Linked DNA regions of Homo sapiens: region 1 is linked to region 2. The links come from fine-mapping of genetic effects on gene expression. A gene starts in region 2. The other region holds a variant in brackets. All regions are shown on one strand. Distances are from middle to middle. Region 1 overlaps MED16 (mediator complex subunit 16). Region 2 holds the start of CFD (complement factor D).

What was found.
Region 1: its variant is fine-mapped to the expression of CFD in whole blood (TOPMed, PIP 0.99).

What each region holds. Positions count from the first base shown.
Region 1 is chr19:879,331-883,536 of GRCh38, forward strand. It overlaps MED16 (mediator complex subunit 16), which reads right to left. Exons shown (of 16, transcript NM_005481.3): 7 at 2,229-2,384; 8 at 607-818. Among named protein-coding and RNA genes, the nearest start is that of MED16, 12 kb to the right of the region's middle. The variant A/G (reference allele first, on the strand shown) is at 2,083.
Region 2 is chr19:857,019-861,230 of GRCh38, forward strand. It overlaps CFD (complement factor D), which reads left to right and starts at 2,646. Exons shown (of 5, transcript NM_001928.4): 1 at 2,646-2,726; 2 at 3,599-3,755; 3 at 3,843-3,987. The coding sequence starts at 2,672.

The sequences.
Region 1 (4,206 bases), 22 kb after region 2:
CCCCAGCAGCTCACCTTCCCCTGGTTGTCAATGCCCACCAGCCCCAGCCGCACATGCCCCAGCAGCTCACCTTTCCCTGGTTGTCAATGCCCACCAACCCCAGCCCCACGTGCCCCAGCAGCTCGCCTTCCCCTGGTTGTCAATGCCCACCAGCCCCAGCCCCACGTGCCCCAGCAGCTCGCCTTTCCCTGGTTGTCAATGCCTACCAGGGCCACGCCCCAGCAGCTCGCCTTCCCCTGGTTGTCAATGCCCAGCAGCTCACCTTCCCGTGGTTGTCAATGCCCCCCAAGCCCAGCCCCACGTGCCCCAGCAGCTCACGTTCCCCTGGTTGTCAATGCCCACCAGCCCCAGCCCCACGTGCCCCAGCAGCTCGCCTTCCCCTGGTTGTCAATGCCCAGCAGCTCGCCTTCCCCTGGTTGTCAATGCCCACCAGCCCCAGCCCCACGTGCCCCAGCAGCTCGCCTTCCCCTGGCTGTCAATCCCCACCAGGGCCAGCCCCACGTGCCCCAGCAGCTCACCTTCCCCTGGTTGTCAATGCCCAGCAGCTCGCCTTCCCCTGGTTGTCAATGCCCACCAGCCCCGGCCCCACGTGCCCCAGCAGCTCACCTTCCCGTGGCTGTCAATCCCCACCAGGGCCAGTGACGTCCACGATAGCTGCATAGCCTTTAAGTGGACGGCGGGGCCCGCGGTGCGGGGGCGCTTCATGGCCGGCTCATCCACAGGCCTCGGGGCCGCGGAGCTGTAGAAGACGGCCATGGTCTGCAGTGAGAGCCGGTGCACGATGTGGACGCTGCCGTCGTGGAAGGCCAGGGCCAGCCCTGTGGGGCACAGGCACTGCTTAGACATGGGCAGGGCCCAGGACACGCCCGCCGGGGGAGGGGCCTCCTGCTCTGCAGGGTGTGGAGAGCCGGGGCTGCCCATCCAGGGGGTCAGCCCCCGCCAATCGGCATCCAGCGCCCGTGCCCCCAGCCACTCTTTCTTTAGTTACACAGTCCCTGAGCACCAGGGGAGCAGGAGCCAGCAGCCTTGGCCACACTGCTCCCAGCCCCTCCCCGCCCCTCCCAGCTGGGCCCATGTCCTGGCTGACACGCCCCTCAAGGAGCGCAGGGGAGGGGGGCACTACAGGTGGGGGACCAAGGGTTGGGGCTCCTGGCGTCCCAAAGAGAGGCATCTTAGGGTGGTGGGCTGGGGCTGTCACTCACACTGGGGTCTGCCATTGTACGAGGGCCGGGGGGAGGTGGGGTCCAGAGCCCAAAGCTCATGGAAAAGAGAATATGAAAGGAGTCCCTGCAGTAGAGAGGCTGCAAAGCCGGGCGCGGTGGCTCACGCCTGTAATCCTAGCACTTTGGGAGGCTGAGGCGGGCAGATTGCCTGAGCTCAGGGGTTCGAGACCAGCCTGGGCAACACCGGTGAAACCCCGTCTCTACTAAAATACAAAAAATTAGCCGGGCGTGGCAGCACGCGCCTGTAGTCCCAGCTACTCGGGAGGCTGAGGCAGGAAGGAGAATCGCTTGAACCCAGGAGGCGGAGGTTGCAGTGAGCCGAGATCACACCACTGCACTCCAGCCTGGGCAACAGAATGAGACTCCAACTCAAAAAAAAAAAGAAAAAAAAAAATAGAGCCTGGAAAATGGAGCATAAACCAAGGGTTTTGGAGCAGGGAACTGCATCCCCTCAACCTCTCTGCAGGCTCTGAGGAACAGCCCTGAGCCCCGAGCGGGTTTTGATAAATGCTCTTTCCAGGGAACCAGGGAAGAACGGGAGCTGGGGGAAGAAAGGGCCTGAGCTAGGGCCGACTTGTCCACATTTTACAGCTGAGCAAATAGGGTAGGCACTGAAGAGTGTGCAGACTCACTCATGGGCACGGATGCCACGGTTTGAGCTCAGGACCACATTATGGCTGCTGCAGCACAGAGAGGACACATGCCGCCTACCCAGGAAGGAGTTCCACCAAGTTCCCCAGGCTCCCTTGTTGATTTGCAATGACTCTTTACATATTAAAGAACACTGGATCTGTCTGCCAGCCTCACAGATCCCGAAAGATGAGATCTGCCTCCTAATTGGGAACCCATCAGAACCCAG[A/G]AGGCTGAGCTCCTACAGCCCCATGGCCTGTGCTCAGAGCCCACGTCCTCTGGTGTGAGCTCCCACGACCCCGTGGCCTGTGCTCAGGGCCCAACTCCCCTGGTGTGAACTGAGGCCCCGCGTGGCTGCCGCTGGCTCCACCGTACCGAGGCCAGGGTAGAACTGTGTGTCGCTGGCCACCTTGAGGTCGGTGTTGGTGAGCGAGATGGGCAGCTTGGGCAGCGCCACGGCCGACACACGGTCCAGATCGTTGGTGGCCGATAGGATCCGCCATTTGAGAATTGTGGGCTGTTTGTCGCCAACTGAAAAATCAGGGGCAGGAAAACAGGAAGGCAATGGAGTAAAGACAGGCTGAGACAGCCGCAGGAGTCCAGCATGGCCTGGTGTGCAACCTGCCCAGGGCCCTTCCCAGGTCTCATGCCGCCCTGCTCCCATGCCCAGAAGACCAGGCCCGGCCAATCCGAGCGCTTCGTGCCTCGGCCACTCATTGGTTCCAGGATGGGCACGTGACCCAAGGTGGGCCCTGGGATTTCATGGAAACCTGTGGGCCGGCACCATCTCACCCCCGATGGGGCAGACAGTGGGGAGACGGCGCCACCTCAGACCTGCAGCCATGCAAACCCTAACACTCGCTCGGCCTTAGCCAGCTCAGCCGGGATTCCCATCCCTCCTCATCTACAATTCCAATAAAGCCATGCGGGATGGTCGCACCCACAGATCCGCTGCCTGACAGCCCCTGCGTGAAGACGCAGCTCCTCCCAACAGGGCAGAGACTTCTGGGAATCTCAGGCCAAGCCTTAGCAAATGTGACATGGCCGGGCACAGCAGCTCACATCTGCCACCCCAAGACTTTGGGAAGCCAACGCCAGAGGATGGCTTGAGTCCAGGAGTTCAAGACCAGCCTGGACAACACAGCAAGACCCCATTCTCTACAAAAAAAACACAGTAAACATTAGCTGTGTGTGGTGGTGATGCACGCCTGCACACGCCTGTAGTCCCAGCTACTCAGGAGGCTGAGGTAGGATTGCTCGAGCCCAGGAAGATGAGGCTGCAGTGAGCCAAGATCACGCCACTGCACTCCAGCCTGGGCAACACAGCAAGAGCCTAGCTCAAAAACAAAAAACAAAAACAGTGGCCCAGAGAGCACGTGTGGGGGGTCCTGCTGTGGCTGCATGTGGGACACGGAGGGCAGCTGGAGCCGGCCTGCTGGAGCATGTGCGGCCAGTGGACAGGCCACGCCACCTCGGCTGCTAACCGCAGACACGTGGGAACCAGGAGAGCGCAGCTGAGGCAGCCACAGAAACAGAAACAGTGCAGGGCTGCTGGCCTGAGCTGCTCAGTTTGGGGCTGGCTTGTTACTCGGCTGAAGCTGACTACCACGCAGCTGCTCTGTGCCACCCGCATCATGAGGTCTCTGCCCCGGACGGGCCATCACGGTCACAGAGCCTTGACCTCCTGCAAACCCGTATAGGGGTCCTGTGAGCAGCATTCCCTGGGGGGAAACAGGCCCAGAGAGTGGCTGAGACGCCCAGAGGGCACACAGTGGTCAGGGGTGGCTGGCCCTCATGGAATTGAGCCTCTCATAGGAAAGACAGGAAACTCAACGCCCCAGCGCCGGGGGAGGCAGCTGCCATGACGACCACACCCCCAGCTAGTGGCCAGGGTACCCTCACAGCACGATTTACATCCCCTCCTCCATCCAACTGACGGCTGCGGTCAGCATTCCTAAATGAGGGGGGACTTGAGGCAGGGAGAAGCTAAGCTGCTAAGTGGGGATGTGGGGCAGTGGGTGAAGAGCTGGGCATGGTAGGAACCGAAGCCTGGCATGGTGGGCACGTGGGGCGGTGCGTGAAGAGCTGGGCATGGCGGGGACCGAAGCCTGGCATGGTGGGCACGTGGGGCGGTGGGTGAAGAGCTGGGCATGGCGGGGACCGAAGCCTGGCACGGTGGGCACGTGGGGTGGTGGGTGAAGAGCTGGGCATGGCGGGGACCGAAGCCTGGCACGGTGGGCACGTGGGGCGGTGCGTGAAGAGCTGGGCATGGCGGGGACCAAAGCCTGGCATGGTGGGCACGTGGGGCGGTAGGGGGAGAGATGGGGGAGAGATGGGTGCGGTGGGGACTGTC
Region 2 (4,212 bases):
GAAACTCCATCTCAAAAATAAATAAATAAATAAATAAATAAATAAATAAATAAATAAATAAATATAAATAATAATGATAATAATAATAATAAACAACAAACTAGAATCCAGAGTCTCTTGGGCATCTCTGGAGTAAGCCACCACCAGGGGGCAGCACAGCCAGGGCAATGGAGCAGAAGTGACTTCCCCACATTGTGTTTTTTTCTTTTTTGTTTTTAGATGGAGTCTCGCTCTGTCGCCCAGGCTGGAGTGCAGTGGCGCGATCTCGGCTCACTGCAAGCTCCGCCTCCCGGGTTCACGCCATTCTCCTGCCTCAGCCTCCCGAGTAGCTGGGACTACAGGCGCCCGCCACCACGCCCGGCTCATTTTTTGTATTTTTAGTAGAGACGGGGTTTCACCGTGTTAGCCAGGATGGTCTCGATCTCCTGAACTCGTGATCCGCCCGCCTTGACCTCCCAAAGTGCTGGGATTACAGGCGTAGCCACCACGCCCAGCCCTGTTGTTATATCATTTTCTATTCTCTGTGCGTATGAAATAATCCACAGGGGGCCAGGCATGGTGGCTCATGCCTGTAATCCCAGCACTTTGGGAGGCCGAGGTGGGCGGATCACCTGAGGTCAGAGGTTCGAGACCAGCCTGGCCAACATGGCAAAACCCTGTCTCTACTAAAAATACAAAAAGTTAGCCCAGTGTGGTTGCTCATGCGTGTAATCCCAGCTACTCGGGAAGCTGAGGCAGTAGAATCGCTTGAACCCGGGAGGTGGAGGTCGCAGTGAGCCGAGATTGTGCCACTGCACTCCAGCCTGGACGACAGAGCAAGACTCTGTCGCAAAAAAAAAAAAAAAGCAAGAAAGAAAGAAAAAAAGAAGGAAAGAGAAAGAAAGAAAGAAAAAGAAAGGGAAAGAAAGAGAAAAACAGAGAAAGGAAGGAAGGAAATGAGGCTAGGCGTGGTGGCTCACACCTGTAATCTCAGCACTTTGGGAGGCCGAGGCAGGCGGATCACGAGGTCGGGAGATCGAGACCATCCTGGCTAACACGGTGAAACCCATCTCTACTAAAAATACAAAAAATTATCCGGGCGTGGTGGCGGACGCCTGTAGTCCCAGCTACTCCGGAGGCTGAGGCAGGAGAATGGTGTGAACCCGGGAGGCGGAGCTTGCAGTGAGCTGAGATCGCGCCACTGCACTCCAGCCTGGGCGACAGAGCGAGACTCCGTCTCAAAAAAAAAAAAAAAAAGGAAAGAAAAGAAAGAAATGATCCATGGTGAAGAGAAAAGCCGGGGGAACCTCGTGTGCTGCTCCCCCTGGGGACAATGTCTGAGGTCCTCCCCACAAGGTATCCCCATCCTTCTGGTCCCCGCACCATGGATTAATGCAACGTGAATCCCGCTGGCCCCTGTGGGGCAGATGTGAAAAATGGAGCTACACCATGAGCAGGCCTGCAGTCCCAGCACTTCTGGAGGCTGAGGTGGGAGGATCACTTGAGCCCCGGAGGTCGAGGAGGCTGCAGTGAGCTATGATTGCACCGCTGCACTCGAGCCTGGATGAAAGAGCAAGACCCTGTCTGTAATAAAACAAAAACAACACACACAAATCCCCACCTCACAAAAGGCCCTATGGCCCAGATTCTGAGAAGTATTTTATTTTAATTTTTTTGTAGAGATGGGGTCTCGCCGTCTTCCCCAAGCTGGCCTTGAATTCCTGGGCTCAAGAGATGCTCCTATCTGGGTCTCTCAATGTGCCGGGATGGTAGGTGGGAGCCACTGTGCCCGGCCAGCCCTGACTCTGTTCATCAGAACCTGCCCTCAGTGAACAGTTTGGGAGGGGGCGTGTGATCCAGGCTCCACCAACCCAAGGCACCCTTGAGACTTGGCTGGAGTGAGGAAGAATTTTAGGAGGGGCCCACTGAGCCACTGGGTTGAGTGTGGGGTCCCTGGAAACACACCAGGGGAGGCTGGTGAGGAAAGAAGCCATCAGAGAAGAAAGGAGAAGCCAGAAGCAGACACTGGACATTGTTCAGGCACCTGGATCAAGCCACACCTGAAGGCGGACATCCCTGAACTTTCCATATAACTTTCATGATTCAGGCTCCACCCAGTTTGTCTGGGTTTTCCTGTCCCTTGTAGCCAGTCTTCCCAGCTGCCTCTGCCTTGGCCTTTCCAACTTTCTATTCGTCAGGGTGTCAAGCCCCAGAGGCCACAGGGACAGAGACAAAGGTGTCAAGTGACCTTCCTACCCCCAACAGACCTTCTCTCTAATATAGAGGAGGAAAAGAAGGGAGGGTAGCAGGACAAGAAAGTGGGTTGTTTACACGCTGTGGCCTCCAGCTAGGATTGTGAAACACCCTGGGGGACTCTGGGTGTGGTGAAGTTGGGGCCGGGGTGGGTGCAGCCCCCCTCTCTGCCTCCTGCCCATCTGAGGGACTGCCCCCCACCAGGGCCAGCAGGCTGTCAGGCTCACAGAGGCCCGAGGGTCTCCCAGCGACTTGTCGACTCTGGTGTGAGTCTGGCAGGAGGTAACCCAGTCCCGGGGAGGGCGGAGGCTGGGCGGGCGAGTTCCCCTTTCCCCAGCTGGGCCGCTGCCCACCCGGGGAGCGGCCCGCCCCCTCCACCCTCATAAAAGCACCCCCAGGGCCCTGCCTGGGTCAGTGTCTCAGCCACAGCGGCTTCACCATGCACAGCTGGGAGCGCCTGGCAGTTCTGGTCCTCCTAGGAGCGGCCGCCTGCGGTGAGGAGGCCTGGGCCTGGGGTGAGGGACAGGGCTGTGTAGGGGCGTGGTGCTCCCTTCCGTCACACGGACGGTCCTCCAGCCCCTCCAGGTGGGCAGGAAGGGGGTGTCTCTCCTCACTAATGGAAGGCTCTGAACGCTGAAAAATTCTAGAAAATTCAGATTGGAAATCGGAACTTTCTGGAGTCAGCTTTTCTTGCAGACAGAGTCTGAACGTCTGCGTGGAAAACTTCATCTGCGTGGCTGACTGGGCTGGCCCAGGCACTGGCTGGGTCAGCCCCATTTCTCTTATGTCCAACTGGAAGGCACTGCGCCCAGGGTAGGGCGCTGGGATCTGCCCCCGGTCCCCAGCCCACTGTGGGTTCTGTACTCTGGGGCATTCCCGCCCGAGGGTATCTGAGTTTGCAACGCTGAGGGGCCCCAAGACGGAAACGGGATTCTTTTTTTTCTTTCTTTTTTTTTTTGATAGGGAGTCTCGCTCTGTCGTCCAGGCTGGAGTGCAGTGGTGCGATCTCGGCTCACTGCAAACTCCGACTCCCGGGTTCAAGCGATTCTCCTGCCTCAGCCTTCCGAATAGCTGAGATTATAGGCCACGCCGACTAAATTTTGTATTTTTTTTTAAAGTAGAGACGGGGTTTCACCATATTGGCCAGGCTGGTCTTGAACTCCTGACCTCATGATCTGCACCCCCCCCTCCCCCCCCGCCCCCGCGCGGCTTCACAAAGTGCTGGGATTACAGGCGTGAGCCACCGCGCCCAGAGATGGGATTCTTGCGGGGAGCGGCCTGGGGGGTGAGAGCTGGGATCCCGTCAGGCAGCCTCGCCCGGGGGAGGAGTCCACCCCGCGGCCCTCACGCGCCCGCCCACCCACAGCGGCGCCGCCCCGTGGTCGGATCCTGGGCGGCAGAGAGGCCGAGGCGCACGCGCGGCCCTACATGGCGTCGGTGCAGCTGAACGGCGCGCACCTGTGCGGCGGCGTCCTGGTGGCGGAGCAGTGGGTGCTGAGCGCGGCGCACTGCCTGGAGGACGCGTGAGTGCCCGCGCCGCGCGGGGGAAGAGCCCGGGTGCGGTGGGGGGAGTCGGCTGGCACCGACCGCGGACTCCGTCCGGTCCCCAGGGCCGACGGGAAGGTGCAGGTTCTCCTGGGCGCGCACTCCCTGTCGCAGCCGGAGCCCTCCAAGCGCCTGTACGACGTGCTCCGCGCAGTGCCCCACCCGGACAGCCAGCCCGACACCATCGACCACGACCTCCTGCTGCTACAGGTCGGCCCCGTGTAGCGCAGTCCCTCCTGCGGCGCTGGGATCCCCGGCCCACCCTCACTCCACCCCGCCTACACCGCGCCCCGGGTCCAGCCTCGACCTCTCCTGCTGCATGGGGACCCCGCCCCACAACCCCCACACCCTCACCCCGGGTCTAGCCTCGACCTCTCTTGCTGCGCTCGGAGCCCCCCCACCCTCTGCACCCTCACCCCGGGTCCAGCCTCGAAC